4 linked regions of the Homo sapiens genome follow. The protein of the gene in region 2 interacts with the protein of the main gene of each other region in a pairwise test. Each region holds a gene or a part of one and is shown on either strand. Other genes may lie near its edges.

Region 1 (7,019 bases), on a different chromosome or scaffold from region 2:
CCCTCCATGCAAATATATGCGTGCACACACAAACACATACACACACACACACACACACACAGGAATGCACTTTGCAGGATTGCAAAGCTAGCTCTTTACCTTCCAAGTATCTGCCTATATAGCACAGGCCAGGAACCCTTCTATGTGGCCATATCATTCTGAGTGTATCCCTACCGGAGTCCTTACTGTGCTGTTTTTTTGTTTTTTTGTTTTTTTTTTTTTTGAGATAGAGTCTTGCTTTCTTGCCCCGGCTGGAGTGCAATGGCGCAATCTCTGCTCACTGCAATCTCTGCCTCCCAGGCTCAAGCAATTCTCCTGCCTCAGCCTCCCGAGTAGCTGGGATTACAGGCGCCCACCACCACACCCGGCTCATTTTTGTATTTTTAGCAGAGGCGGCGTTTCACCATCTTGGCCAGGCTGGCTTCAAACTCCTGACCTCAAATGATCTGCCTGCCTTGGCCTCCCAAACTGCTGGGATTACAAGCGTGAGCCATCGCACCCCACCTACTGTGCTGTAGTTTAACTGCCCACTTGTTTGTATGAATTATCCAACTCCTTGAGGGAAAGGACTATGCTTTATTGGCTATTGCATCTCCAGAACAGTGGCTCACCCATAATATATGCTCAATAATTATTTGTAGAGTAAATGATCAAAGTTCAAATAATCCTAGATCACCATCCTCAACCAGTTATTGGCTTAGTATAGGAATTGTCAACCAAAATCTGGAAGAAACGATACATTCAGCCACTTCTTGCACCATCTAGACCACTGATGGTATCTAAGCTCCAAAGCTAGAGGTGATAATAATACAGCTGTCCTCTACCCCTCATTTGTGCCTATGCATGTGCCAACCATGCAGATCCAGGAGGAGCACTGTAAGCTAGGAAGCTGAGCAAGGAAACAAAAAGCCACAGGGAAGAGAATCAAGAAGCAGCACTACTTCTGACAGGCATTTCAAGGTGTATCAACCCTGAGAATTCACTAGCACCTGAGGTTTTTTAAGAAAACATGGCTTTAATTACAGCCACTGCTGACCGCCATCAAAGTTAGTATTCCCAAGCTCCTTACTGGCTGGTGCCTCTGAAGTTACTTACTCTTTCTAGACCTTAGTTCCCTTATCAGTTAAATAACCATAGCATACAACTCAGTGCTGTTTGAGGAATAACTGAGACTACGTATTGGAAAGCACTTAACACGGTGCCTGACATATGCTGAGTTATGATACAATAAAGGCAAGTTATTAATATTATCACCATTATTAGTGTCAGTCAGGATTGCAAACACAAGTACATATAAAAGCAAGCTACGGTTCACTAGTCAAGCATGCGCTAAAAGGCTTTATCGGGCCTCAACCCCTGAAAATCTGAACACCTAAATTTAACAGGAGGGAACTTAACTTGCCACATCATGGACATAGCAACCTGACAATGAGCAACCTATTTTGGATGTAGCCCCAGGGAAACTTTCTCCTATACTTATGCTAAATATCAGTACCTCTAAGAAATAAAATGACTCAAAACTAATCTAGACCAAAAAAAAAGAAGAAGAAGAAAAATAAATAAATTAAGGCCTGGCACGGTGGCTCACGCCTGTAACGCTAGCACTTTGGGAGGCCAAGGCAGGCAGATCACTTGAGCTCAGGAGTTGGAGACCAGCCTGAGCAACATAACGAAATCCTGTCTCAAAAAAAAAAAAAGAAAAAAAAAATTAGCCAGGCGTTGTGGCACGCACCTGTGGTCCCAGCTACTTGGGGGACTGAAGCAGGAGGATCACTTGAACCCAGGAGGATGAGGCTGCAGTGAGACCAAGATCATGCCACTGTACTCCAGCCTGGGTGACAAAGTGATACCCCGTCTCAAAAAATTTTCTAATTTAAAAGGCACATGTATGTTTAGTGCTATTTTTTTTTTAAACCTGCCCATTTATACCAATTTATCCAAACACAGAAATACACAGACTCTAAAACAACTTTTTGGCTACTTGACTGATAGAAATCATTATTCACCTTAATTAACTGAATGACTGGCTATTCTGAAGGTTGCTAGTAATTCTATTTGCTGGTGTAAGCATTTTTAACATAAACATTTAAGACGGAATGCTAAAAATACCTTAAGGAATATATAATTGTGCTATTTTATACAGCAAAGCTATATTTTACGTGGGGTGCATGCTCTTTCTCTAAATACATACGTCATCTACAATATAACCTCATTAATTCAACATCAATTTCTAATGTGTCGCTCAAATAACTTGCTATTCACCAACAATTATTCTTTAATTTAAAATATATGGTAATTAAAACACTAATGAATTAAAAGCACATTCTCTCTATACTTCAAATTGACCAGGTTTTCTAGTTCTCCGCAAGCACAAAATACATCTTTTCATTATTCCCTTCTAGCTTGCTTCCCTCTTGCTACTAGCTATATGATAAAAATTACAGGCTTTGCTCTTAATTTTTCTTATTTATATTTATTGATTCCTCATTTTATTGGTTATTAAAATTTCCCTTTTTTATTCTTTTCCTTCCAAACACCACCTTTCTTCTACACTATACTTTTAGCACTGGCATAAGGACAGTTCCAGTCGGTCTTCTTGTCCATGGCCTGGAGAATTCAGCCCCCAGGGAAACAGGGCAGCGCTACCTGTATCCGGAGGGCATGATCTTGCTAACCTAGCTCTTACCCTTCCACCACAACCACTCAGCCTGCCTCCCTATTTTTTATCTTTCTATCTTACTGTTACTCTGTTTCACAGTCCCAGGAGATGTCTCATACTCAGCATTTACCACTGTGGTCCCCTCCAACACATACACACCCATTCCCTTACTGAGCAAGCTATATATCATTATGAGACCATCATCTTTGACCCTGACACTGAATCATGTATTTTTCCATAGGATTTGCTGGCAGAAAATGGGATGGGGGAGAAAAAAATCGTTTCCATTTTTAAAAGGTTCCAGAAAGACAATCCTACCTTTCCCAGGATTTGGAGGAAAAGGGCTTCCAAACTCCTGCTGCTTTGGCTTTAAAGTATGTGACCCTGACATGCCTCCAGCCTGGGTGACCTGGAATCGCGGCTTCCCATTGGTGAGCATTTGTCTCCTGGGGCTTAAGGCAGGCAGATGGATGCGGCTCTCAGCCACGTTGTTCTGAGGAGCCATCCCTCCTCCTGAGGGCATCTTGAGATGGAGGTTGTTAGCAAGGCTTGCCATAGTGGGACTCGATGTGCTGCCACAGGGCGAGGGGCCAGGAGTCCCGGAGTGGGCTCGGATGGCAGGAATGTGATGACCACTGACCATCCTAGGCCCCTGTGGGGTTCCCGATGTCCGGTGGAGACTCATGCTGCATGATCTTCCATTCATTCTGAAAAACCTGTGGCCAAGACGGTCAAATATCCAATGTCACTAATGACTCCTTTCAGGCAAAGTCCAATAAGTTATCCATGGTGTGGGTTATAAGCCTGTTTAAAAAAATAAACGCAGGCATTTTTAAAAGCAAAAATGAAAATAAGATACAGTGAGTTTTTCAACCTGTGTATCATTCATAAGGAAGAAAAGCAGCACTCTTAGCAAGATGGCCTTTTATGTAGAAAAGGGTCCTCAAATACACGGCTCATTGGCAGGCACTCTCCCCTTCTGCACTCATGGTGGACATGGATTATGGATCACTGCATTGTTTTGTTTGCCACTGAGCCCTTCTCAATACAGTGCTCTCGGCAACTACAACAATCTACTGGTGCCAGCTTGCAAAACAAAACTTATTTTGTTCCCTAGAGGATCTGTCCATACTAGTTCACTTTTGCTACAGTGGGTCTTGGGAAACCCAAAAGCACCACCTACCTGAGCTGTGAGACCAATGCTTCAAAGTTCCAGTAAACAACCACAAAGCAGACATGGCTTCTAAATGAGACTATGGGGACACTAAACCATCTCTGATTTTCACTTTAAGAGCTATCTTGTCACAGTCCCTAGATTCGAAAAAGATGAACACCTAGGCCTGGGAATACCATAAAATTTTTATATATCCACATATTCATATATTCAAATATTCATGGCAGCATTAGAGTCTTGGTTCCATAATGATCCTGAGTTATGGGGATGGGAAGAGAATCAACAACAGGATACTGCAACCTTCCACTAAAATCCTAGAAAAGAGAAGGGCTGTGCAAAACGCCTTACAGGGAGCATAAGGAGAGAACGTCCCTTCTAAAAGTGACCTGTCCAGTATGTACATGATACATGACATTCAGTAAATCTACCATAGTTCCATAAAGCTTCCTAACATTAAGGAAGCAGAACAAGAACCAAGAGAAGCACTGACATGATCGCAGGACGTCATCACCCACCCACGTGATGATGCCGGGTTGTAAATCACTAAAGAAGGCCCCTCCTTCCCTTGACCAATAGCTCCCCAAAATGTATGCGATGAGGTGGTAAAGTGCCATGGTTGTGCCACTATGCCAAATGTATTATAGACACTGTCACAATCTGTCTTTCAGAGATGACAGTCATGGAAAGAAGCCAAAGTTCAACAAACACAGGAAATAAGGACTGAGTACAAAGCAGGAGTGACCAGATATCCTCAAGTGGATGATTCCTAATTTTTGTGTATGATCCACTCAAAGTGTTGAACAAACATTTTTCAACTCAACTTCCAAATAAAGGACTCCATAAATAATCGAGAAAAGGCTATCAAGGAGAAACACTTTTTGTGAAGAGTTTATTTTTCATTTTTAGAAAATCAAAAATATCTAATTTTAACTCAAGCACTCACTATGCCTTCTGCAAAGTTTGCTGTGTGTGCCTATCTTGAGGAAATTCAAAAGTAATTAACAATATAAAATGTAGAATGTTTTCTTAATTCTTACTAATTCTCTATTTTCACTAAGAATGCCATCAGTTTGTGACATTTAATACTATCATGCCATCTAGTTCCGGAAAACACTCAGCCACATTCCTCTAAGTCAGGTCTCACTCCTGCCCTCTTCTCCCATGAGTACGAAGCAGGAGTGACCAGATAACCTCAGTTCTTACATTGGTAAAATTCCAATGCTTTTTATGGTACATTTATGTAGGAGAACTCCTGTGTGTCACCAGCCAGTCTGTAAATCCATTCATTGGTAGATCATGAGCAACAGTCACTTAATGTCTCTGTACTTTGCCAGATAAAATTGGCCATCTATTTTCCTCTCATTGATAAAATAGTGTTTTCTGAGCACTCTGAACCCTGCAGAAGAAAGCACGTATTCAGCAGCAACCCACCCCCCGCCAAAAAAAGGCAAAAGAAATATGTCACATTGGCAACTTTTTTAAAATAAAGAATTGTTCAACATGACTGGAAATATGAGTCACTAAGACCATGGTCCAAGTGACAAGTGTCTGCAGATTTTCAGACTGTGCCCATTTCCAGGTTTTTAAAAATAAAGGAGTCATTTTTTTTGGCAGCAAGATCATATACGAGCAGGAATTCTCATCAAAAAATCTGGATAAAAACACATAAGGAGGTACTTAGCACGATCATTAAAAAGGTGAGTTTGCAAGAAGGAAAAATAATTAGAGCACTGACAACTTAATTAAGTATCAGGCATTCACATCTGCCTGTCTTGGAATGAATATTTATTTTATTTTATTTTTTTTATAAACTACACTCCCGTTTTAAATAGTTTTAGGTTGAAAGTAAAAACAACAAAAAGTATACTTAAATTTTATTACTAAGAAAGCAACAGCCAGAAAGTAAAGTGATTAATACCATAACGAAAAAACCAATAGGCCAATGGCATGTAAGCTGAGCAAAACCAGCCTCAAGACAAAAATAAAAGAAACTAAACATGAAAATATGGCGAATATTCCAGTTTTCACATTAATTACGCCAACAGATTTCTCAAACATTAGATATTAGAATGTAAAAATAAATTTCATCTATTTATATGATAATATTTTCTATACTTTTTAGCTAGGCCATATGATGAAGATATAATCCTAAGTCTCCTTGGTAACAAAAAAAGGGATAAAATGCTATTATAACTTTTAAGAAAGACCCTCATAGAGTGTGAATGAAATGGCACTCAAAAAGTCAAGATACCCAAGTTCTACTTCTGACAAATCATTTATAACTTTTCTGGACTTACAGTTTTTCATCCATAAAAAGTTCAGGAATTTGGATCTATTCATTACGGCCTCTTGAAATTCTGTAACTCCAGGTAATTTAGAAAAGAAAGACTATCAAGAACACCCATTTGCTATAATCAAGAATAAATATGTAGATTTTATACCTATGGCATTTAAATCTGGACGGTAGACATGGAAGCAAAAAATAATAGCATTCTCTACCACCCCCATCAAAGTGCGAGCTGATAGAAAAAGGCTTGCCCATCAGCGATGTGTTGTCTATGGGCAATACTAACCATGAACAACAAATTTCAACATTGCATTTACACTTTGCCAAAAAGGTAAAATCACAACTAATCACTGTCAAAAACTTAACTGACAGGATTCCATCGGAAGAGCACCTTTCTAGTTAAAAATCCAATCACATTATTCTAGTCAGCATTTTCTCCTCTGTTCTCCATCGAACTACTCTACCCCAGGCTACCAGTAACAAAAACAAAAGAAACAAGAAAAAGAAAAAGCAAGGAACATCCAGAGGTATAAATTAGGATATTTTGGATCTGACATTGTGGCATAGCTAGAGTTTTATACTACATTGGTTCCTACAATGAAAATGTTCATTCTGCTAATATGAGTCAGCATGAAAGTTAATAAATCTTTCCTTTTGACCACTTTCAAACTCTTTGAACACACTTCTGTAAATCAGGTCAGAGAGGAAATTACTTAACCCTAAGGAAACTAAGGCACAAAACCATTTAGTAATTCCACTAGTTTTTCTGAAAATGCGTGACTTTAATCAAAATATAAAATCATGACTCTACCTTCTACCCAAGGCTCCAGGCACTGCTCATCATGGATTAAAAGATTAAACAAACGAAAAGCAATGTTAACTCATCCATTCCAGAAAAT
Region 2 (7,623 bases):
AGCTGAGTCCTCCCCCAAAAGAGAGGTCGTCTCTTGAGCTCCTCATGCTCAATGAACAGCTTTTTACTGATTGACAGCATTTCCTCTTGAAGATGATGATGCTCAGACGGGCCTCAGCTCAGCTCCTCCAAAATCGCCCTTTGTTTTCTGCAAGGGCCTTTTTCTCATTATGCATTGAGAAGCCAATTTCAAATACAAAATGATATTCAAGGATTTTCCACTACATTTAGTCTCCAGTAAGGTGTAACTCACACAAGTGCAACCTGATATTGTGTGTGTCAAAGCACAGGATTGAAAGCAATGAAGCACAAACAGCTCATGGGCTGAATGTTAGTTTTCTCCTTAAGTTTTGGTGCCATGCTGACAAGTCTCAAGTCATTCACTTGGTAAAGGGAACTCTTTTCTTGAGTTCATCAGTCCCATCATCAAAATCCAAGCAACCTCAGCACAGAGGTCAGTGACCCAATAACTTGGTGGCCAGGAGGGCACAAAAATAATCAAGTATTCTAGCCTGCATGCCTCAGTTTCCCAAAACACTCACTTCCAACTTCTGAAGAGACACACTGCCTCTTATTAGGACTTTCCTGACACTAGTTCTCTCCCTGTTGTTGGTACTAGCTGGATGACCTTCAAAGTCACACCTGAACTCTCTGGGTTTCAGAAAATAAAGAAGCCTAACATAAGAGATCTTCAAGGACATTTCAACTTTAAAATTTTGACCGTGAAATTTTCAAATAAATCTTCCCAGCATCAGACTTCTGATTTAGTAGTTCTTTGTATTTGCTGACAAGAATAATGGTAACTAAACCTGCTTTTTTTCTTTTAATAAGGTTTATGAAATCACAGCCTAACCCATGCACCAGGTGGGTACAGGAAGATCTCAACTTGCTGGGTAAGTTTCATGCTGAGAACAAAGTGCTGGGAATGTTTATGTTCAAACTTGATCTTCACTCACAACAAAGGCTGCCAACAGATACCACTATCCCTATGTCTACAGGAAGAAGGCTTCAAAATAATAGTTGTAAACCACACTAAAGATCATGTACATCCACGCAGACTCCTAAGAAAGGTGGTTTGAAATGAGTGTCAGTTTCACCCAAAAATGGGTGGAACAGACACACAAAAAGGTATATGTAACTGTGCCCATCCCAGCTAATTACAGCCTCTTGTACTAATTTTCAAGAATAAATATACAACTAATCTCTCGTAAATGTAAACTGCTGCCTGTACACGGTCTCACTGCTGGGCACCGGAGTTTTATCAATATTGTTAAAACAAAAAGTGCATAAAGATGAAGGGAAATAATACAGGTCTTTCTTCTAAAACAATGGGTTACACAGCAGTTTTAATTTGGTGAGTTTTTAAATCTTCAAAATAATTTACCAGCTCTTTGCTGCTTTTATCTTGCCCAGACGGCGTTAACAATTCAGCTTTAAGTATAACATATTTATTTTAAAAACTTTTTATCCTGAAAGCTCAAATTTATAAAAAATTGAAAGAATAGTATAACTAACTCTGATTTTTGAAAATTAACACACTCATTCCAAATTTACATTTTCAAATTTCATGCTCTTGGGGATTAAGAAGTATATATCCTTGCATGTATGTAAATGAGACATACTTCTGCTGTATTCACAAGAGTATCATTAGTCAGTTATTTGTGTACTGGTAACAAATCCTAAGTATTTTAATACCATAACAAGGCAGGAAGCGAATGCCATTATAAATATACACGTATCATTCTCTTTCTCTCCAGTGTGAGGCAATGTGGTAAGGCAATGGCCAACTGTAAGACAGTCTCAGATCTCTAGTCTAGATCTCTAGAAACTGCTGGGGAGAAGCACACCCTGTTTTTTATTTTACAAATCATACTAGGATACGTTCATATTGAAAGCACTTTCAAACAATAATACAATTTTAATTTAAAATACACACACACACATATATATATGAATGTTTTGACACCAGCCTCCAGAGTCATTGGGTGCCTAACATGGGACAGTAGCCAAGATACCCCTCAACCAAGTTGGAGAACTTGAGCGGTAAAATTCCCCCCAAAACCACCATCCAAGCTTGCGAGTGTCCCCCTCGAGTCCGCGGTCAGCAGGGTGCGCCGCGGGTCCCGGGCCCGGAGGCCGAGCGGGCAGCAGGGGCCACGGTGGGCCGGGGCCTCCGGAGCTGACCAGGCCGGCCGCCCCTCTCCCAGCCCTAGAGCGCGAGGCCAGCGCTGGACACCCGGCCTTCCGCCCTGGAGTCGAGCCGTGGACGGCACCGGAGCCACTGCGGGGTCGCTTCCCGGGCCACCGAATCCCGGGGCCTCCTTTCGCCCCGACGCCTGTCAAGGGCGGGTCCGGAGCGGGGACTCGTCCGGGCGCAGCGGGAGTGTGTGGCGGGGCGCGGAGCCGGTGTCCGCCCGCGAGGGGCCTTCGCCGACCCCCGGGCCCCGCCGCCTCGCGTCCCCCCGGCCCAGCCCACTCCCCGCCGCCTGCCGTCGAGGTGGCGCCACCGACCAGGGCGGGCCGCGGGCCCGGCTCACCTTGGGGCCCTCAGAGGGCACGCGCGGGTCGTTCCACGTAGTGGTGCGGCTGTTGTGGTCCACGAAGAAGGGCCAGCCGGTCTGCGGGTCGATCTTGATCTCCCATCCGGGGGGCAAAGGGTCGCGGTCACCGTTGCCGGACGCCACCTGCATCATGGGCGAGTGGGTGGCGGCGCTCATGCTGGGTTGGGGTCTGCCCGCTGGGGCGCGGGTGCGGGGCGCTGGCTCCGGGCGCCGAGTCTCTGGCCGGGCCGCCGCCGTGGGCCCCTCTCCGCCGCCGACGTGTCCGGGAAGCCGGCGCCGGGCACCTTTATGAATTAAAGGCGGGGGTGACGTGGCCAGAGAGGGGTGGAAGTGTCTGGAAATAGCCTCCTCGCTGCCAGAGGGGAAGGAGGAGATAAAGGGAGGTAGCAACTGGCCGGCTAGAAACTTCTGGTCCAGTCCAGAGAAGTTGGCCGCGGCCCGGGGTTGGATGCGGAGCTCCGCCCTGAGTCATCGGCTATAATCGCGGCGGGCGGGGCAGAGGAGCGGGGGCGGGGCCTCGGCCCGCTCGCCCCTCCCCCACCTCCTCCCGCCCCTCCCCCTTCCGACTCGTGCGCGTGCCCGGGCCGGAGTCGCCGCGGGCGGGCGCGGGCGCGGCTTCGGGGTCCGCCTGCGGGTGGGAAGCCGGACGAGCTGGACTGGGGCCGTCCTCCGTGCGCCCCGGGCGGGTTTCGGCTTTCATAGTCGCTCTCTCCCTCTCCTTTGCGCCGAGTGAGTGTTCCCGGGGCCGGAGCCCGTGCTCCCCGTGCCTGCCGCCCGTCCTTCCTGTACAAACAAAACCATCTCGCCCACCTCCACCCCCTCCCCCATATATGATAGCCGAGGACCCTGAGGGCTGTCCGGGAGGAGCGCGGGGACTCTCATCTGACACCGGAAGGAAGCCAGGGAGAAAATGGAAGTCAGTGCAAACTCACCTGCCTTCCTTTGGAAACTTCAAGAAAAAAAGAGATTGTATCAACTGATGGCTTTTAGTCTCCTAGACTAAAAAGAAAGTTTCGTTGCAGCTTTAAAGATAAATCACATTTTCTTGGGTCTGGATCTTTTTTATGGTAGAGATTGGTTCTTGCTATCTTATATCTTGACCCTGATTTGGGAAGTAAAGACCGAATAACCATGACATTTTTTGTTTGGTTTATTCAATTGCACTTGTAACCTGTCAAAGGAGAAAATTACAACACATTTAAAGATCTTTTTTGTTGTTGTTGTTGTTGATTTTCATTTTTTAACTTTTATTGTTAAAGATCTTATTTGTGATTCTAGAAATTGGGCAACATCTCCATTAAATTAGAATAAGTGCTCCCATGAGCTGAGCAGAAGAGGTTGGTTTTATAGACAGAGAAGGGCTGAAGAAAGCAGAAACAAAGAACCAAGACTGGATTGGTTGTTTCAAAATTACTTTCCTTGTAAGGAGGGGACAGAGAGACAGAATCATAGAAAAATAACTGATGAGGGCTTGCCACCATGGCTCATGCCTATAATGCCAGCACTTTGGAAAGTCAAGACTGGAGGACCTCTTGAGTCCAGGAGTTTGAGACCAGCCTGGACAACACAGTAAGACCCCCATCTCTGCATAAACAAAAAATAAGCCAGGTGCAGTGGCTTATGCCTGTAGTCCCAGCTACTCAGGAGGCTGAGGTGGGAGGCTCATTTGAGCCCAGGAGTTTGAAGCTGCCATGAGCTATGATTTTGCTCTTCATGCCAACCTAAGCGACAGAGCAAGACCCTATCTCTTTAAAAGAAAGAGAGAGAAAGAAAGAGAGAAATGATTGAGAGAAATGTAACATCAGGTTACATACTTCAGATTACTGTACAGTTGACCCTTAACATGGGTTTGAATTGAGCAGGTCCACTTGTACATGGATTTTTTTTCAATAAAAGTTACACCGATGTGCTTGCCTCTCCAGTCTCCCCTTCCACCTCCTCCACCTCTTCTGTCTCTGCCACCCCTTGACAGGAGAATCAACCCTTCCTCTTCCTTCCCCTCCTCAGCCTCCACGTGAAGATAATGAGGATGATGACGTTTATGATGATCACGTCCACTAAATGAGTAGTAAGTGTACTACTCTTCCTTATGTAAATGTAAAATCTCTTCCTTATGATTTTCTTAACATGTTCTTTTCTCTAGCTTACTTTATTGCACGAATACATATAATACATATACAACATATGTGTTAATTGACTGTTCATGTTATTGGCAAGGCTTTCCGTCAAGAGTAGGCTATTGGTAGTTTTGGGAGATTCAAAGTATGCAGGGGCGGGGCATGGTGGCTCACGCCTGTAATCCCAGCACTTTGGGAGGCCAAGCGGCGGATCACTTGAGATCAGAAATTTGAGACCAGCCTGGCCAACATGGTGAAACCCCAACTCTACTAAAAATACAAAAATTAGCTGGACGTGTGGCACATGCCTGTAATCCAGCTACTCGGGAGGCCGAGGCAGAACTGCTTGAACCCAGGAGGCGGAGGTTGCAGTGAGCCAAGATCATGCCACTGCACTCCAGCCTGGGCGACAGAGCCAGACTCCAGTTCAAAAACAAACAAACAAAAAAGTATGCAGGGATTTTCTTTTTTCCTTTCTTTTCTTATTTTATTTATTTTATTTATTTATTTTTTTGAGACAGGTTCTTGCTCTCTCTCCCAGACTGGAGTGCAGTGGGGCAATCTCAGCTCACTGTAACCTCTGCCTCCTGGGTTCAAGCGATTGTCCTGCCTCAGCCTCTTGAGTAGCTGGGATTACAGGTGTGCACCACCATGCCTGGCTAATTTTTGTATTTTTAGTAGAGACAGGGTTTTGCCATGTTGGCCAGGCTGGTCTCAAACTCCTGGTCTCAAGTGATCCACTCGTCTCCGTCTCCCAAAGTGCTGGGATTACAAGCATGAGCCACCTCGCCCAGCTTTGCAGGGATTTTCGACTGCACGGAGTTGGTGCCCCCAGCCACCTCCTGTCACTCCCCAACCCTCACCCCTCATTCGAAAGTAGCCTGTTTGGGAAATTAGACTATCACCTCTCCTGATTTCTCAGAAAGTCAGATAACAACTTGGTTTTGGTTTGGTGATGTGGAACTTTAGCATGAGTGACTCCTTTCTGATTTTTCGTCGGGTTTGTTAAGGCCAAATGCAGGAGCTTAGTCCAAAACAGTGACCTCTTATAACTTTTATTTAACAAACGTCAATGAGCACCCCAATTCCCCTGGGAAAGAGAGACTGTGTTCCAGAAAGAGAGAATGTTTGGGAGGTGACATTTTAGATCTTTAGACATACTGACTCATTCCCTTCCCCAGAAACGCTTTGAACTAATATTGGGCCTAGTTTTCAATTCGGAATCAGAGAATATCCTCGAACCCCAGTCAATACCTCTGCCCCTTCCTGCCCTCAGCTTACTCCTTCTGGAGAAAATGCCAGAGAGGCCTGCCTATCATTTCCAATGGAATGATTCTCACTTGTAAAAGTATGCTTATCCGCTTTGGAGTCCAGTAACTCCAGTGATGATCAGGCCCCAGGGACTGATGCAGGTCACCAAACATGTTAGAGACAGGTGTATAAACCCGAATGTCAGTGCACTAGTTTCCCATAGGAAATATTACTGTTGAAGGAACTAGACCCCCAAATTCACTAGTCAGTGTCTGCCTTATGCTTCCTTATGTCTGCAGCCCTGAACCCAGAGTCCATATTCAATAAATGTTGATGTTTATCGAAGATTGAATCCAGAGTGAAATTTTATTTCTATCTTCTTCCTTGCTCAATTTGCTTTCCACTACAGTTTAAGTAACTACAGTTTAAATAAACACAGAGGCTGGGTGTGGTGGTTCATGCCTGTAATCCCAGCACTTTGGGAGGCAGAGGTGGGGGGGATCACTTGAGGTCAGGAGTTTGAGACCAGCCTGGCCAACATAGTGAAACCCCGTCTCTACTAAAAATACAAAAATTAGTCGGGCATGATGGTGGGTGCCTGTAATCCCAGGTACTTGGGAGGCTGAGGCAGGAGAATCGCTGGAACCCGGGGAGCGGAGTTTGCAGTGAGCTGAGATCACGCCACTGCACTTCAGCCTGCGCAACAGAGGAAGACTCTGTCTCAATAAACAAACAAATACTGAAAGTGGTGTTGGCCATTTTTCCCCTGAAAGAAGCAGCAGGGAGGAAGCAGGTTACTCTGGGATTAACATAGCTGCTTCTGACAGTTGCTCTGGAGGCTAAAGCAGCTCCATCCTGGATGCTCATCTGCCATGTTCGTTTCTGATGAACCCGTTCCAGGAATGCCTCTAAGATTTCTATTTTCACATACTTACCCTTCGGTCAAAATAACGTTGGTGTTACTGTAAACACATACTTACTATAAATCCTGCCTGTGGCGAATTCCCTGTGGTATACAAGCCCTGGGACTTCAGGGTAACAGTGCAGGGACCCGCCATCTTGTCTTGCAGCCATCCAGGACATGGCTTGTGTTTGTAAGTCCCTATTAAGTGTTTCTCTCTGAGAAACTGGATTTGTCCACCTCTTTCTTCAGCTTCTCAGTTTCCTCAGCCTTTGAGGGTAGGTGTGCATAGACCTGCTCACCGCAGAAGAGTTATCCTCCGCTAGGGACTTCCGCAGGGTTTGTCTAAAACAGAGACACAAGTCTTGGAGAGCTGGCTGGAAGAAGCTGCTTTGAGCCACGTTGAATACTGAGCATCATGTCTGTCCTCGGTGGCTTTTTCTTTTCTCCAGGCCCTCAGACACTCCCTCTTTAGGCCTCCTGGAGTTCATCTGCCCAGATCAGAAGCTTAAGCATAACCCTAAATTTCTTTTGCCCCTCACCATTTAATTATCCTTTTTTTTTGAGACTTGCTCTGTCACCCAGGCTGGAGTGCAGTGGCGTGATCTCGGCTCACTGCAACTTCCGCCTCCCTGGCTCAGGCGATTCTCCTGCCTCAGCCTACCGAGTAGCTGGGATTATAGGCACCCGCCACCATGCCCAGCTAATTTTTGTATTTTTAGTAGAGACAGGGTTTCACCATGTTGGCCAGGCTGGTCTTGAACTCTTGACCTCAGGTGATCCTCCTGCCTTGG
Region 3 (7,720 bases), on a different chromosome or scaffold from region 2:
AAACAAACAAAAAACCAAACCTATAGGAAAGAGAAAAGCAGCCTTCTGGGCTCAGAAATCTGAGTAGAAAGATGTTCTGAGCCTGGAGAAAGAAATTCATAAAAGCCTGACTCTCTCTCCAGAAAAGAGTACATTTCTGCATTTAATTTTGGGAGGTTGGTCACCATTCTTTTCCTCGCTTCTAAATAAATGCTTATATAGCATTTATATTCCAGTCACTTTACAAATATTGTCATTTAATTCTCATGCAAACCAACGAGGTAGGAACTATTGTTATCCCCATTTTACAGATGGGGAAACTGAAGTACAAAGAGCTGAAGTAACTTTTCCAAAATAGATGTGGTTTTGAACCCAAGAAATGTGATACAACTATGACATGAGGCAGTCCCAATGCATTGAATCCTTATGACTGCAATGCAAGGGAGGTATAATTAACTGCATTTTATAGATGCAGAAACTGAGGCTTGAGGCTATTTGGTGTTTCTGGTGTAGATCTAGGAGCCAAACTCCAGCCTACCTAGACTCTTTGCCTCTGCTGTACCCCTGGACCATGTGTTAGGAATTCTTGGTACAGGGTGGTAGTGCTCAATATGGTAGTGGTTTTAGTCTGTTTTCTGTTGCTTATAACAGAATGTCTGAAACTGAACAATTTTGAAAGAAAAGGAATTTATTCCTTACAGCTATGGAGGATAGGAAGTCCAAGATTGAGGGGGCACTTCTGGTGAGGGCCTTATTCCTGGTCTCTGAAGTGTCTGGAGGTGGCACAGGGTATAGCGTGGAGAGGGGACTGGGCATGCTGACATGCTATGCTTTGGTCTCTCTTCCTCTTCTTATAAAGCCACCAGTTCTCCTCCTGTGAAAACCCACAAATCCATTAATCCATGAGTGGGTTAGTCCATTCATAAGGGCAGAGGCTTCATGATCCAATCACTTCTTAAAAGTCCCAACCGCTCAGTACTGCCACATTGGGGGATTAAGTTTCCAGCACATGACATTTGGGGGACACATTTAAACCATAGCAGTAGCCATTTGCCACATGTGGTTATTGAGCACTTCAAGTATGGCTAATGTGGCTAGTGTGACTGAGAATTTTTTATTTTATTGAATATTTTAATTTTTTTTTTTTTTTTTGAGATGGAGTCTCACTCTGTCGCCCAGGTCAGAGTGCAGTGTCATGATCTCGGCTCACTGCAACCTCCGCCTCCCGGGGTCAAGTGATTCTCCTGCCTCAACATCCCGAGTAGCTGGGATTACAGGTGTGTGCCACCATGCCCGGCAAATTTTTGTATTTTTAGTAGAGACAGGGTTTCACTGTGTTAGCCAGGACGATCTTGATCTTCTGACCTCATGATCCACCCACCTCCGCCTCCCAAAGTGCTGGGATTACAGGCATGAGCCACTGCGCCCAGCCTCACATTATATTTCTATTGGAACACAGAATGGTCTAGAGAATTGGGATTTGACAAACCCAGCTGTGACAAGTCACCAAAATTTGGGGGCCATACCCAGGGTGCCGTTCCTGTCACGATACCCATAGGTCCATGTGGAGGCTGCAGGGATACAAAGCTCGTGAAATATCCCAGGATGGCATGGGCACTGGAGTCAGCTGCCCCAAGTTCAAATCTGAAATCAGTCTTTTTGTTTTTTTTTTTTTTTTGAGATGCAGTTTCACTCTTGTTGCCCAAGCTGGAATGCAGTGGCGCAATTGGCTCACTGCAACCTCCGCCTCCTGGGTTCAAGCGATTCTCCTGTCTCAGCCTCCCGAGTAGCTGGGATTACAGGTACATGCCATCACGCCCGGCTAAATTTTTGTATTCTTAGCAGAAACCGGGTTTCACCACCTTAGCCAGGCTGGTCTCCATCTCCTGACTTCAGGTGATCCGCCTGCCTCAGCCTCCCAAAGTGTTGGGATTACAGGCGTGAGCCACCGCGCCCAGCCTGAAATCAGTCTTATACGACCAGCTGGGTGGTCTTGGGTAGGTCCCTTACCTTAACTCTTCTTGTCTGCAGAATGGAGGTGACTTACTGTTTTTCTCTGTCTCCCTTTCACATCTTTGCACTCTTCACCCCTTCTCTTCCCTCAGCTTTTAGTTTAAACATCACCTTTCTGATAAGCCCTGCTGAAAATGGCCACCCTCAGTCATGACGGAGAACAAGTCTTTCCTATTTTATTCAAGAAAATGCATGATGCAATCTATTTTAAATGATCATGGTTTTAATTTTATTTTCCTGATAATGGTCTATCTCTCCACTGATTTATAAGATTTGTAAGAGCAGGGGTGGATCATTCTGGTCACTGCTGAGTCCCCAGCATTTAGAACAGGGGCTGACACAGCACAAAACAACGTTAGTTGGGAATGTACAAGCAAACCCAGCACACCTTCAGAGGGGTGCTCAGGAAACAGCCCTCCCACCTTTCTTCACCCCTCACAGCTGTGGGATCTTCCTAACCATTTCGGTGTCCCAGGATAGAGGATGAGTTTATTCACCCCTCCCCAGCAGGGGAGTTGCCAGGATTAAATGAGATCCCAGAATGCCCTGGTATACCCTGAAGGCTCTGGGACACAGGTGAGCTGGTCCCCAGGGATTTGGAAACAGGAAAACAAATATGACTCCACCCTGCCTCCCATCCAGCCTCTGCCTAGAGGAGTTATTTTATTTTATTTTACTTTTTTTTTTTTTTTGAGACGGAGTCTTGCTCTGTCGCCCAGGCTGGAGTGCAATGGCGCAATCTCAGCTCATTGCAACTCCTGCCTCCTGGGTTCAAGCGATTCTCCTGCCTCAGCCTCCCGAGTAGCTGGGACTACAGGTGTGTTTTTTGTATTTTTAGTAATTTTTTGTACTTTTAGTAGAAACGGGTTTCACCGTGTTAGCCAGGATGGTCTTGATCTCCCGACCTCGTGATCCACCTGCCTCAGCCTCCCAAAGTGCTGGGATTACAGGCATAAGCCACCACGCCCAGCCTCTAGAGGAGTTATTTTACTTACTTACTTATTTATTTATTACACAGGATCTCACTCTGTCACCCAACCTGGAGTGCAGTGGCACAATCACGTTTCACTGTAACCTGAACTCCTGGGCTCAAGTGATCCTCCTACCTCAGCTTCCTAAGTAGCTGGGACCACAAGCTCGTACCACCATGCCCGCTATCTTTTTCTCTTTGTAAAGACAGGGTCTTACTATGTCATCCAGGCTGTTCTCAAACTCCTGGCCTCAAGCAATCCTCCCGTCTTGGCCTCCCAAAGTGCTAGGATTACAGACATGAGCCAGCTCACCCAGCTGAGGAGTTATTTTTTGACACTGGTGAATTCAGATCAAAAGGGATTTCTAAGAAAGGTGCTGGACCCAGGCCGGGCGCGGTGGCTCATGCCTGTAATCTCAGCACTTTGGGAGGCCGAGGCAGGTGGATTATCTGAGGTCAGGAGTTCGAGACCAGCCTGACCAACATGGAGAAACCCTGTCTCTACTAAAAATACAAAATTAGCCAGGCATAGTAGCGCATGCCTGTAATCCCAGCTACTTGGGAGGCTGAGGCAGGAGAATCGCTTGAACCCGGGAGGTGGAGGTTGCAGTGAGCCGAGATCGTGCCATCGCACTCAATCCTGGGCAACGAGTGAAACTCTGCCTCAAAAAAAGAAAAAAAAAGAAAGGTGCTGGACGCCTAGGACGCAGAGGGGTGTTTCACCCCAAATCAAGTAGCACCAAGCCCTCCCAGGCCTTGGGTGCAAGCATATTAAAGGCCTCTTTCCCTCTCTGTCTCCATTGTTTACACTCCACTGAGCATCCGCAATGTGCCACACACTGTTCTAAGCGTCTTACACATATTAAATTATTTAATCCTCACAACAACTTTATGAAGTGAGCGCAATTATGAGCCCATTTTATGGAGCAGGAAGTTGAGGCAGGGTTTTAGGTAGCTTTTCTGGGGTAGCACTGTGGGTTGGAGCGGAGGTGGAGTGCACTCTTAGGCCAGCTGGCTCTAGGGGCTCTTCACCACTAGGCCGCACTGCCTCTAGCAAAGGGACGCGGGGAAGCTCAGCAGACCTTAGGCCTCCCAAGGGCGCCACGGTGGTTCCTTTGAGCCCAGAGTCAGCTCTTAAGTCCATAGGCCTTCCTGAAGCTTCTGAACCACTTGCCCATAGCTGGGCCTCAGGCTGGCTCTCAGTAGAATGTGGAGAATGGAGATTCCCGCATGTCCACTTCTCCTAAAGGTTTTATAAGGCAGTGCTGGGAATGTGCTTTATAAAAAAGGGGAAGCACCCCGACAACAGTCACTGTTTGCTCTTTTAAGCACCATCCTGAGAAGGAGGAATGTTCTTCCCATTTCATAGGTGGGGAAACCGAGGCTCAGAAGAGCAAATTTTTGGCCGGGCGCGGTGGCTCACGCCTGTAATCCCAGCACTTTGGGAGGCCGAGGCGGGTGGATCACGAGGTCAGGAGATCGAGACCATCCTGGCTAACAAGGTGAAACCCCGTCTCTACTAAAAATACAAAAAATTAGCCGGGCGTGGTGCGGGCGCCTGTAGTCCCAGCTACTCGGGAGGCTGAGGCAGGAGAATGGCGTGAACCCGGGAGGCGGAGCTTGCAGTGAGCCGAGATCGCGCCACCGCCCTCCAGCCTGGGCGACAGAGCAAGACTCTGTCTCAAAAAAAAAAAAAAAAAGAGCAAATTTTTTTTCCAAGGTGATAGGGAGAGTCCGTGGCTGATGTCTGCACTGACCAGACGCCCCTAGGGGGCCAGCGAGGGCGGGTCCCAGGTGCAGCGGATGCAGAGGAGAGAGGCCCGGGCGCGGCGCGGGGGATGGTGCGATCCCGGGCCCGAGGGCATCAGACGGCGGCTGATTAGCTCCGGTTTGCATCACCCGGACCGGGGGATTAGCTCCGGTTTGCATCACCCGGACCGGGGGATTAGCTCCGGTTTGCATCACCCGGACCGGGGGCCGGGCGCGCACGAGACTCGCAGCGGAAGTGGAGGCGGCTCCGCGCGCGTCCGCTGCTAGGACCCGGGCAGGGCTGGAGCTGGGCTGGGATCCCGAGCTCGGCAGCAGCGCAGCGGGCCGGCCCACCTGCTGGTGCCCTGGAGGCTCTGAGCCCCGGCGGCGCCCGGGCCCACGCGGAACGACGGGGCGAGGTACTCGGCGGGGTGCGGCCTGCGGACTCGCCCGGAGGCCGGGGGGCGGGAGGGGGCGGCCGGGGAAGGGGGCGCCGGAAGCCTCTGGGCGTCTGCGTGTTGCCGCGTGTTACACGCACGCACGCCCCTTACACACCTTTTCACAGACCCCGCCGTCGGGGCGCGGCCAGGTCAGATCCCTTTTGATCCGGGCCTGGGCTGAGTGCTCCCCCCGGGCTTCAGGTGACGCGGCCCCGCGGAGCGTGGGGTCGCCCGAGTTGGGCTGGGGAAGCCAGGGACGGAGGTGTCCGGCCGTCACCCCTAGAGGAGGGCGTGCGGGGGTCTGTTTTGCGTGAGTGCGGGATAGGGGAGTCGTGTGGTGCGGTGAGGGGCTTGTGGGGGGCACTGGAGGACTCTGGGGGTGGCGGGGGATCCGAGGGGGTCCTCGTGAACCCGCAGGGGAGAGTCCTGGGTGAGGGTGGGTCCCGAGCACCTGTGTCTCAGGAGATGGTGAGAGCTGTCTGGAGGGCTGGGCACTTGGTGGCAGGGGTTGGCGGTGCAGGGGACACCGCCGGGACAGGGCTGGGGTGCCCTGGAGCGGGGGAGCCGAGGGAGTGGGAGCGGGGGCGCAGCGCGCGATCTCTGGCCCGGCAGGGCCGCTGGTTCTCCCCAGTGCGCGGCTCCGGGTTTGCAGGTGGACGGTGCGCGCGTGTCTGCGGTGTGTGCTGTGCCTGCAGACCGGGGAGGGCGGGGGACGACAGCCACCTCCTTCCCTCTGCCTCACCCCCCTCCTGTCCCAGGGCCGCGCTTCAATTTCCGCTGAAACTTCTGACTCGGACACCCGCCGCCTTTCGCTTGGGCTCCCACGGGAGGGGCCTGGCTGCGGGGGGCGGGGCGGGGTGGGGGTGCGGCCTTGCTCGGGTAGACCATGGGTGTGACAGCTGGGAGGGCTGTGTGTGTGTGTGTGTGTGTGTGTGTGCGTGCGCGCGCGCGCTTGCGCTTGATGTAACCCGCCCTCATTTCCCTGGGTCCCGAGTGTGGCAGGGAACAGCAAGAGGTAGATATTAGGGGCTGCTTTCATTCCACATCACAGATTCTATTCTGCAGTGTGGTCTGCAAAATGCCTTGCCCAAGATGTATAGACTCAGTTACCGCATCTGTCCCCATCTGGGTGGAGCTTATCCCAGGCCCCAACAGGCTCTGAGGGATGGCCGGGGCCAAGGCAGCCTGGACTACTGATGTGGCACAGGCCAGAGGGACTCCAGGCAGTCTCCTGCTGCACAGGGCACAAAGCATGTGCACAGCCAGGTATCATCCTGCGTGACTCAGAACAGCCTTGAGATGTAAGGAGTGTCATCCCAGCCTCGAACCTGGGGAGCTTTCTAAGACTCCCAAGGATGGTACTTATGCATCTTGCTGTGAAGAATAACAGGATGAGTGCTAATAATGACCATTTCCTGACACCTACCTGGCAACAGGTCCATAAGCTCTACATGCTTCATTTGTGTTTTCATTTCATCATCACGAAAAACCTGTAAGCTTTGCATCCTGTTCCCACTTTACAGGAACTGAGGCTCAGAAAGCTTGAGGAACTTGACCAGGGGTACCCCCCAGCTAGAAAGGGTTTGAGACAGGATTAGAACCCAGGAATATCTGACTACAGCCACTCCTTACTGCATTCTTACCAAGCCAAAGTCATGACCTTTCACTCATGTGGGGAGGCCTTCCCTTCCAAGGCAGCTCTTCCATTTGGGAGCAGCGTACTTGGAGAGGTGGGCCTCTGTCTGGTAACTGACTCATGTTGCCTTGTTAATCCTGCCTTGAACTGTTGGGAAGGTCTTTAACCAGGCTGAGGTCTCTCGCACCAATGCCCATACCTGGGCATGCACCTCCTTGGAATGGAGTTTAAGTGGGTGGGCAGATGGGTTCTAGAGAGAACCCGTCTGCCCTGACCATGCCCTACTGCCCTCTCCTTCAGCCACCACACACACAGTCACACAGCTGCGTGAATGGTGGCTTTCCTTTCACTTAACAGTTCACTCTGGAGATCCTTCCAATTACCCTATAAAGAGCATCCTCAACCTTTTAAATGGCTGCACATTGTTCCGTTGTGTGGATGAAGTATAATTTATGTAACCAGCCCTGTAATTATAGACAGCCAATTATTTCTGTCAAAAGGGCTGCAGGAATAACTGTGTATTTGCATGCTTACACACACACACCTCTACAGAATAAATTCTTAGCAATGGGATTAATTGCTGAATCAAAGCTCACACGCTTTTCATCGTTGTTTTTGTTTTGTTTTGTTTTGCTTTGTTTTGAGACAGTCTCACTTTGTTGCACAGGCTAGAGTTCCTGACCATGGCTCACTGAAGCCTTTACCTTCTGGGCTCAAGTGATTCCCCTACTTCAACCTCCTGCATGGCTGGGACTACAGCTGTGTGCCATCATGACCAGATAATTTTTTTTTTCTTAGGGACAGGGTCTCGCTACGTTGCCTAGGCTGGTCTTGAACTCCTGGGCTCAAGTGATCTTCCTGCTTCAGCCTCCCAAAGTACTGGGATTACAGGCATGAAGCACTGCACCCAGCCTGTTTTTCATTTTGATATTG
Region 4 (7,860 bases), on a different chromosome or scaffold from region 2:
GGGGGCTGGCAAGTCTAAAATCTGCAGAGCAAGCTGGAAACTCTCAGGCTGGGGCTGAGGCTACAGTTCAATCCACAGGCAGAATTTCTTCCTTCTCAGGGAAACCTGTTTTGCTTGTTAGACCCTTCAACTGATTGGTGAGGCCCACCAATTATCAAAGATAATTTCCTTTACTTAACTTCAAATGATTGTATAGGTCAACCAAATCTACACAATATTTTTACAGCAACACCTAGATTAGTGTGTTAGATTGAGTAACTGGGGACTATAGCCTAGCCAGGTTGACACATAAAACTAACCATTACACTTCCTGGCTGGAGTGCAGTGGTGCATTCCATCTCCTGAGCTCAAGCGATCCTACCACCTCAGCCTCCTTCGTAGCTGGGACCACAGGTGCATACCACCACGCCCTAGCCTTAAAAAAAATTAGAAAAATATTTTATTAGTTTTAAAAACTTTTTACATCTCAACAACAAAAGCCAAATAACCCAATTAAAAAATGGACAAAAGATTAGAATAAACATTTCCCCAAAGAAGGTATACAAATGTCTAATAAGCACATGAAAAGATAACCAACATTGCCAGGCGCGGTGGCTCACGCCTGTAATCCCAGCACTTTGGGAGGCCGAGGTGGGCGGATCACAAGGTTAGGAGTTCGAGACCATCCTGGCTAACATGGTGAAACCCCATCTCTATTAAAAAATACAAAAAATTAGCCGGGCGCGATGGCGGGCGCCTGTAGTCCCAACTACTCAGGAGGCTGAGGCAGGAGAATGGCGTGAACCCAGGAGGCGGAGCTTGCAGTGAGCTGAGATCGCACCACTGCACTTCAGCCTGGGCTGAACAGAGCGAGACTCCGTCTCAAAAAAAAAAAAAACAAGATAACCAACATCATTCGTCATTAGGGTAATGCAAATAAAAAACACAAGGAGTGAATACTTAAGACAGACAATAACAAGTGTTGGCTAGGACATAGAAATATCGGAACTCTTAGAGGTTGTTGATGGGCGTGTAAAATGGTGCAATCACTTTGAAAATAATTTGACAGTTCCTCAGAATGTTAAACGTAGAGTTACCACATGACCCAGAAATTTCACACCCAAGAGAAAATAAAGCATATATATGTCCACACAAAAATGTGTACACAAATGTTCACAGCAGTATTATAATAGCTAAAGAGTAGAAATCACCCAAATATCTATCAACCAATGAATAGATAAATAAAACACGATATATCCATAAAATAGAATATTATTCATCAGTAAGAAGGAATGGGCCAGGCGCAGTGGCTCAGGCCTGTAATCCTAGCAGTTTGGGAAGCTGAGGAAGGAGGGCTGCTTGAGCCTAGGAGATGGAGACAAGCCTGGGCAACATAGCGAGACTCGGTCTCTGCCAAAAATACAAAAATTAGCCAGGTGTGATAGCATGTGCCTGTAGTCCCAGCTACTTGGGAGGCTGAGGTGGGAGGATTGCTTGAGCCAGAGAGGTTGAGGCTACAGTGAGATCGCACCATTGCACTCCAGCCTGGGTGACAGAGTAAGACCTTGTCTGAAAACAAAAACAAAAACAAAAACAAAAAACAAGGAATGAAATACTGATAACATGCTACAACCTGGATAAACTTTGAAAACATTATGCTAAGTGAAAGAAGCCAGTCACAAAGGGTCACACATTGCATGATTCCATTTATTTTTTAAAACTATTTATTTATTTAGAAACAAGGTCTCACTCTGTCACTGAGTCTGGAGTACAGCAGTGCAGTAACAGCTCACTATAACCTCAAACTCCTGGCCTCAAGAGATCCTCCTGCCTTCACCTCCCAAATCACTGGGATTATAGGTGTGAGCCAACTGCGCCTGGCCCATGATTCCATTTATATGAAATGGCCAGAATAGGCAAATCTGTACAGAAAGAAAGCAGATTAATTTTGCCAGGGACTTGGGGGGAAGACAGATTGGGAGTAACTGCTAAAGACTATAGGGTTTCTTTTCTTTTCTTTTTTTTTTTTTTTTTGAGATGGAGACTCGCTCTGTAGCCAGGCTGGAGTGCAATGGTGTGATCTCGGCTCACTGTAACCTCTGCTTCTCGGGTTCAAGTGATTCTCCTGCCTCAGCCTCCTGAGTAGCTGGGATTACAGGTGCGCGCCACCACGCCCAGCTAATTTTTGCATTTTTAGTAGAGACAGGGTCTCACCATGTTGGACAGGCTGGTCTCGAACTCCTGACCTCAGGTGATCCGCCACCCTTGGCCTCCCAAAGTGCTGGAATTACAGGCGTGAACTACCATGTCTGGCCTAGGGTTTCTTTTTAGGGTGATAAAAATGTTCTGAAGGCCAGGTGCGGTGGCTCACACCTGTAATCCCAGCACTTTGGGAGGCCGAGGCGGGCAGATCACGAGCTCAAGAGATCGAGACCATCCTGGCCAACATGGTGAAACTCCATCTCTAAAAATACAAAAATTAGCTGGGCATGGTGGTGCACGCTTGTAGTCCTAGCTACTCGGGAGGCTGAGGCAGGAGAATCACTTGAACCTGTGAGGCGGAGGTTGCAGTGAGCCGAGATCACACCACTGCACTCCAGCCTGGTGACAGGGCAAGACTCCATCAAAAAAAAAAAAAAAAATACCCACTGAATTTTTTACTTTAAAAGGGTGAATTTTATGGTAGGTGAATTACATCTCACTAAAATTATCACTTTGGCCGGGCGCAGTGGCTCACGCCTGTAATCCCGCTCTCAGGGAGGCAAGAGGCGGGAGGATAGCTTGAGCCCAGGAGTTCGAGACCTGCCTGGGCAATATGGCGAGACCCCGTTCTCCAGAAAAAGGAAAAAAAAAAAAAGACAAAAAAAAGCGTAAAATTATCACTTTAAAGTGTTTTCTTTTCTTTTTTTTTTTTTTTTTTTTTGAGACGGAGTTTAGCTCTTGTTGTCCAGGTTGGAGTGCAGTGGTGAAATCTCGGCTCACCACAATCTCTGCCTCCCGGTTCAAGCAATTCTCCCGCCTCAGCCTCCCTAGTAGCTGGGATTACAGGCATGTGCCACCACACCCAGCTAATTTTGTATTTTTAGTAGAGATGGGGTTTCTCCATATTGGTCAGGCTGGTCTCGAACTCCCGATCTCAGGTGATCTGCCCGCCTTGGCCTCCCAAAGTGCTGGGATTACAGGCATGAGCCACAGCGCCCGGCCATTTAAAATGTTTTCATAAGCACTTTTACTTTTGCTCAAATTGCATCTTGATATAAACTTCAAGTTTTTTAAAATAAAGATAATATAAATTATTCTCATTATATTATACTCTCTAGAAAATGTAAGTAGTAAATTTGAATTTGATGAGCCAGTCCACTATTTCCTAAACAATGTATTATCTGTGGGCTGTTCATTCACCAGGGACACTTGAAATGGCAAAATCTTTTCCTCTCTGCCAATGGTTCTGTGCACCATAGCCACAAAGAAATGTAAAAGTTACTTGTTGGCTTATTAGTCTCAATAAGTTTTAGTTGATTGAACAAACAAAGTCTCTCACAGCCAGGACTGCTGCGGCTGGAATTCCTGACATACTGTCATACCTCTCACTCGTCAATCTACACTCTCCTCCCATCTACACAGCTCTGGAAATTAAAAACAATCCAACCATGACTATCATGGCTTCAGAGGTCTATGAACTCCCAGGAATTATACGCAGATTTTTTCCTGAGGACAGTCTACACTTCCTTATTGGCTTCTCAAAGAGGGTCACTGACCAGCTTTTAGAGACATGGGCCAAGTCCGGCTACGTTTAGATTCGGTAGTAGTGTCTGTGGTTTTAGTTTGCCACGTCCTTTCCTCTTTTTTTCGTCATAGTGCCCGCTCTTTGGGAGGTAGGGGAGAGTCTTCCCCTGAAGTCTCCACTGCTGCTGGAGAACCTTCCTTTTTCATCTGGTTGCTAAATCCAGAGAATGAAATCTAGGAGATGATTGCACCGTCCCCGCCCCTCAACATGAAGGATGCCCCACTGCCCATCGGGGAGGGGAGCAGGGAGAGCTGGAGAGAGGCTGGGTCGGGGCAGGACCCAGGCGCAGATCCTCCGAGGCCAGCTGCAGCCCTACCTACCTGCCTTCCCGTCTTTCCCCTCCCTTCTTTTCTCCTTCTGTCTTTCCTTCCTTCCATATCTCTTTCCTTGCCTCTTTCCCCCTCCCACTGCTTCCTTTCTTCCTTCCACTGTGGAGGTGGAAAATTTAGCTAGGAGAAGCTGGGACTGGGACGTTCCAGGAACCAGACAGAGAGTGAGTTAAAGGCACAGAGATGAAAACGCGGTATGGGAGAGCTGGTTCTTGAGTCGGCTAAGAGGGGATGAACTCAATGGTTAATAGGATTGGCCATGGCGAATCCCTCAGCAGGGCACGCACCGCACAAAGGGCCGAGGAGCGAGGGTAGCTCGAGGTCAGGATTACAGAGACTCAGGAGCAAGAGAGGAAGGCTTAAAGAGCCAGACTGCGCAGCCAGGACTGGGGTGATGGGCGCTGTCCTGCCAGGCCAAAGAATGAAGATGTAGCCCCGCCCCCAACCTAGGGAGGAGGACCAGCCCGGTTCCTGTCCTGCCCCCGCAACCTCGCCCCGATTCCACTCCGGGAACCTCGGCGATGCTGAGCCAAGACCACTTCTGAATCAGGGATGACTTGTCTAGTGAACCTAGGGTCAGAGCCATCAGTTGGAAAGGCTGGGAGGAGCCTGGAGAAAGAGGGCGACCTTCCTTGGGATCTGTGCGCTCCCTCCTTGCCTCCCCCTCCAGCCTCCCACTTGGTAGCACCTTCCTGATCCCCTTATCTCTAAGGCGCTCAGGGAAATGCCCCGCTGCGGGAGCCTTCTGGGAAATGCTGCCCTGGCCACCCAGGAACCATGAGCCCTGCAGCCCCGGTAAGGAAGAGTTCTCTGGGACAGGAGGAAGGGCCCAGGGCAGGGTGGGCACCCTTGCCACATAGGGGACGGGACAGAAGTCTTTTAGGCCCTGACATCCTCTGGTCTCTGAATGACATCCTGTGGCTGCTGGTAGGTGAGGGTTTGCGGGGCTGAGCTATTGAAGGAAATGATCACAGTCCGAGGTGATAGATACAGAAAGTCTTCCTTTCTCCAGGTGGGCTCCCGCCAGTCCATTCTTCACTGTGCCCTAGAGGGGCCTTTCCGACCCCCTAATCACACACCTCACTCCTCATCTTGAAACTCCCACCCCCAGCTCCAGTCACTGCGTCCTAACATCCAAGCTCTCCGCCTGTCATGCAAGGCCTCTGTGCTATTTCTTTCCAAACCCTGCAGCTCTATCGCCTGACACTCCCGATGCCCTCCCCACCCCTGCGCTTTATGTTCTAGACACACGGAAATGCTGGGCACTCTTCAACATCCTGACAGTATTCATAGGGGAAATTTCGGGTCGCCTAGGAAACTGCCCCTCATCCTCCAAGGCCCCTTTCAGCCTCCTCTGGGAAGCCTTCCTGAACCCCTTGAGAAAAGTCAGGCTCATCTTTTCCATTGTTAAATCACACCTTGTGCTCCAATTGTGTGTTTCCATGTAATCTCCCTCACTAGACTGGAAGCTGGGGATGGAAAGGGGAAGCATCAAAAAAACATGCAAAACTAGGAGCTTGGCTTCTCCTTGCAACTTTACTTTTTCTTTTTTTCTAGGAACTGAGTTCAATGATTCTTAAGAAAAAGTATTTCATGATAAATGAGTGAACAAATGTCTTAATAGAAAAGTAAAATTGCAGGCGGGGCTGCTTCTGCCCAGCTCTACAGGGGTAGACTACAAGTCCCAGTACGCCTCGGGTCAGCATCTCTTCACGTCACTCCCCCTCCCTGGGGTGGGCAGGTCCGGAGGGCGGGGCCCGGGGGCAGCTGGGCTCTCAGGCGCTGCGGGAGGAGAGAAATGCCCCAGGCTCTCCGGGGCACACAAAGCGCAGGCGCAGCGGGTTGGGTGGCAGCAGCATCGAGTAGCGGCCGCTTAGGCAGCAACATCCGCAACAAGTGTAGACAAGGTGGGTGCATCAAGGGGAGGGGCTGGAAAAGGAGTCTGCACCTGACCCTCTTGTCTGATCTGTGTCAAGACCGTGGAGAGGGGAGGGAGCGGCAAGAGGAACAGACAAGGCTGGGCCTTCCAGCCCAGGTGTGCCAGCCCTTGTTACGCAGCAACAGGTGTGAGCAGGTGGGGGAGGGGCGGAGGCACCCGCTGGCAAGTGAGTCGCCCTCAGGAACAGAGGGCACCTACCTGGATTCCAGTGCAAGCTACATCATGTACATGGATGAGTCATTTGCTAACCCTCAGTTTGTCCATCTGTAAAACAGGAGTAAGGATTCCCTTCCTAACAGGGTTAGAGTGGGGACAAGGTGAGGGAGTAGAATGTGCGGTGACGTCCAAACTTAGCTGTACATTGGAATCATCTGAGGATCTTTGAAGAGTATCAGGGCTTGCCTCCTGCCCTCAGACATTCTGATTTAATTGTTACGGAGTGTGGCCTGGTATCGGAAGTTCTCAAAGCTCCTGCCGGCATAACGGTTTGAAGCCAGGACTGCTGGGTGTGAGTCTGGGCTCCATTGCTTACTAATCAAGTGGCCCCGTGCAACTGACTGGACCTTTCCGGCCCCCGTTTCCCCATCTCTGAAATAGGAATAATAAGGACTGCAGGGAGGCTTAAATGAGATAATGGATGAAAGCACTGATAGGGGGTACCCGGACAGAGTGCTCGGTCCATCACAGCTGCTGTTGAACTGCTCTTTGAAGCACTTTGTAAACAGCTCTAGTGGGGTCCAAATAGGAGGGAGCTTTTCCCTCATCCATTGCCGTGATTCTAATATTCTGCACTTCCACATTACAGAATCCCAAGGTTTCTAATACTTTAAGAGTCTCATGCTCCACCGACTGAGCTAGTCAGGCATATTCTAATGTTTCAAGAGCTCCTCCCTCCAGCCTCTGCCTGCCTCACAGACACACTTCTACAGATCTAGAAACTGAGACCAGGACAGAGGGCCAGGGAGGAGGGATATGGCCAAAGTTACCAAGCTGAGGCTGGAATCCAGGCTCCTGGTCCCCACCCCCACCCCACACCAATGGCTGCCCTGCTGACCCCACAGTGACAGTGCTCCCATTCTCTTCCTGAGCAGAGAATGGGGAGGAGGCCGAGGCCGCCTGGCCCTTGTTTACTAACCCTCCCTCAAACGTTTCCTGGGTGGCTCCCCAGGGACGGCAGGGCTGGGGGCTTCTCTCCAGGGAGCTGCTGCTGAGGCCTGTGTCTCCCGTGGCTCCTCTGACAGGTCCCGCCTGACTCCGCTCTGGAAAGTCCTTTTGAAGAAATGGCCCTGGTGAGGGGCGGCTGGCTGTGGAGACAGAGTGAGTGATCCTGGGCCCCTGGTCCTGGGGCAGGGTGAAGGAAGTGGCTTACTGGGCTTGCCACGGGGAACACTTCTCTCAAGAAACCAGGACCTTTTCATCCTTCCCTTGTTTGTCCATGCTCTTCCCTCTGCCTGAAGGTCCTTCCCATTCCCGACTACATGGTTTAAACTTCTATTTGTTCATCACGACCCATCTCAGATGGGCCCCTCTCTGAGGAGCCTTCTCTGGCTTTTCCTCTGGCCCCCACCCCTGCTCCTGCAGTAGCGTCAAGCTGGATTAGAGGCTCCCTCCTCGGTTTTCACGGCGCCTTACAGTGATCTCCTTAGAACAGAACTGTCTATCTGTGGGTATCCCCACTCCCTGACCCCAGACTGGCCCCAGTCTGCGAACTCCTCAAGGACAGGGGCTGGGTTTGACCCTCTGTGTGTCCACAGTCCCCCAACCCCGGGCTGGACACAGAACGAGGCACAGAACAAAGTGAAAAATGCCTTTGTGCTTTGGAATCC

What was found.
Region 1: the proteins of BAG3 (region 2) and GLIS3 interact in binary tests that used the Homo sapiens proteins (3 or more experiments, as listed by UniProt).
Region 3: the proteins of BAG3 (region 2) and TRIB3 interact in binary tests that used the Homo sapiens proteins (3 or more experiments, as listed by UniProt).
Region 4: the proteins of BAG3 (region 2) and PLEKHB1 interact in binary tests that used the Homo sapiens proteins (3 or more experiments, as listed by UniProt).

The regions. Positions count from the first base shown.
Region 1 is NC_000009.12:4,283,061-4,290,079, forward strand, and holds part of GLIS3 (zinc finger protein GLIS3), read right to left. Parts: intron 3,464-7,019; 5' UTR 3,366-3,463; coding exon 2,978-3,365; intron 1-2,977. UniProt on the Homo sapiens protein: Acts both as a repressor and an activator of transcription. Binds to the consensus sequence 5'-GACCACCCAC-3'.
Region 2 is NC_000010.11:119,646,769-119,654,391, reverse strand, and holds the start of BAG3 (BAG family molecular chaperone regulator 3), read right to left. Parts: upstream 3,013-7,623; 5' UTR 2,717-3,012; coding exon 2,537-2,716; intron 1-2,536. UniProt on the Homo sapiens protein: Co-chaperone and adapter protein that connects different classes of molecular chaperones including heat shock proteins 70 (HSP70s), e.g. HSPA1A/HSP70 or HSPA8/HSC70, and small heat shock proteins (sHSPs), e.g. HSPB8.
Region 3 is NC_000020.11:376,040-383,759, forward strand, and holds the start of TRIB3 (tribbles homolog 3), read left to right. Parts: upstream 1-4,720; 5' UTR 4,721-5,130; intron 5,131-5,255; exon of another isoform or gene 5,256-5,461; intron 5,462-6,393; exon of another isoform or gene 6,394-6,506; coding exon of another isoform or gene 6,507-6,587; intron 6,588-7,720. UniProt on the Homo sapiens protein: Inactive protein kinase which acts as a regulator of the integrated stress response (ISR), a process for adaptation to various stress. Inhibits the transcriptional activity of DDIT3/CHOP and is involved in DDIT3/CHOP-dependent cell death during ER stress.
Region 4 is NC_000011.10:73,641,737-73,649,596, forward strand, and holds the start of PLEKHB1 (pleckstrin homology domain-containing family B member 1), read left to right. Parts: upstream 1-4,844; 5' UTR 4,845-4,872; coding exon 4,873-4,890; intron 4,891-5,917; exon of another isoform or gene 5,918-6,002; intron 6,003-6,466; exon of another isoform or gene 6,467-6,542; intron 6,543-7,176; exon of another isoform or gene 7,177-7,275; coding exon 7,276-7,351; intron 7,352-7,860.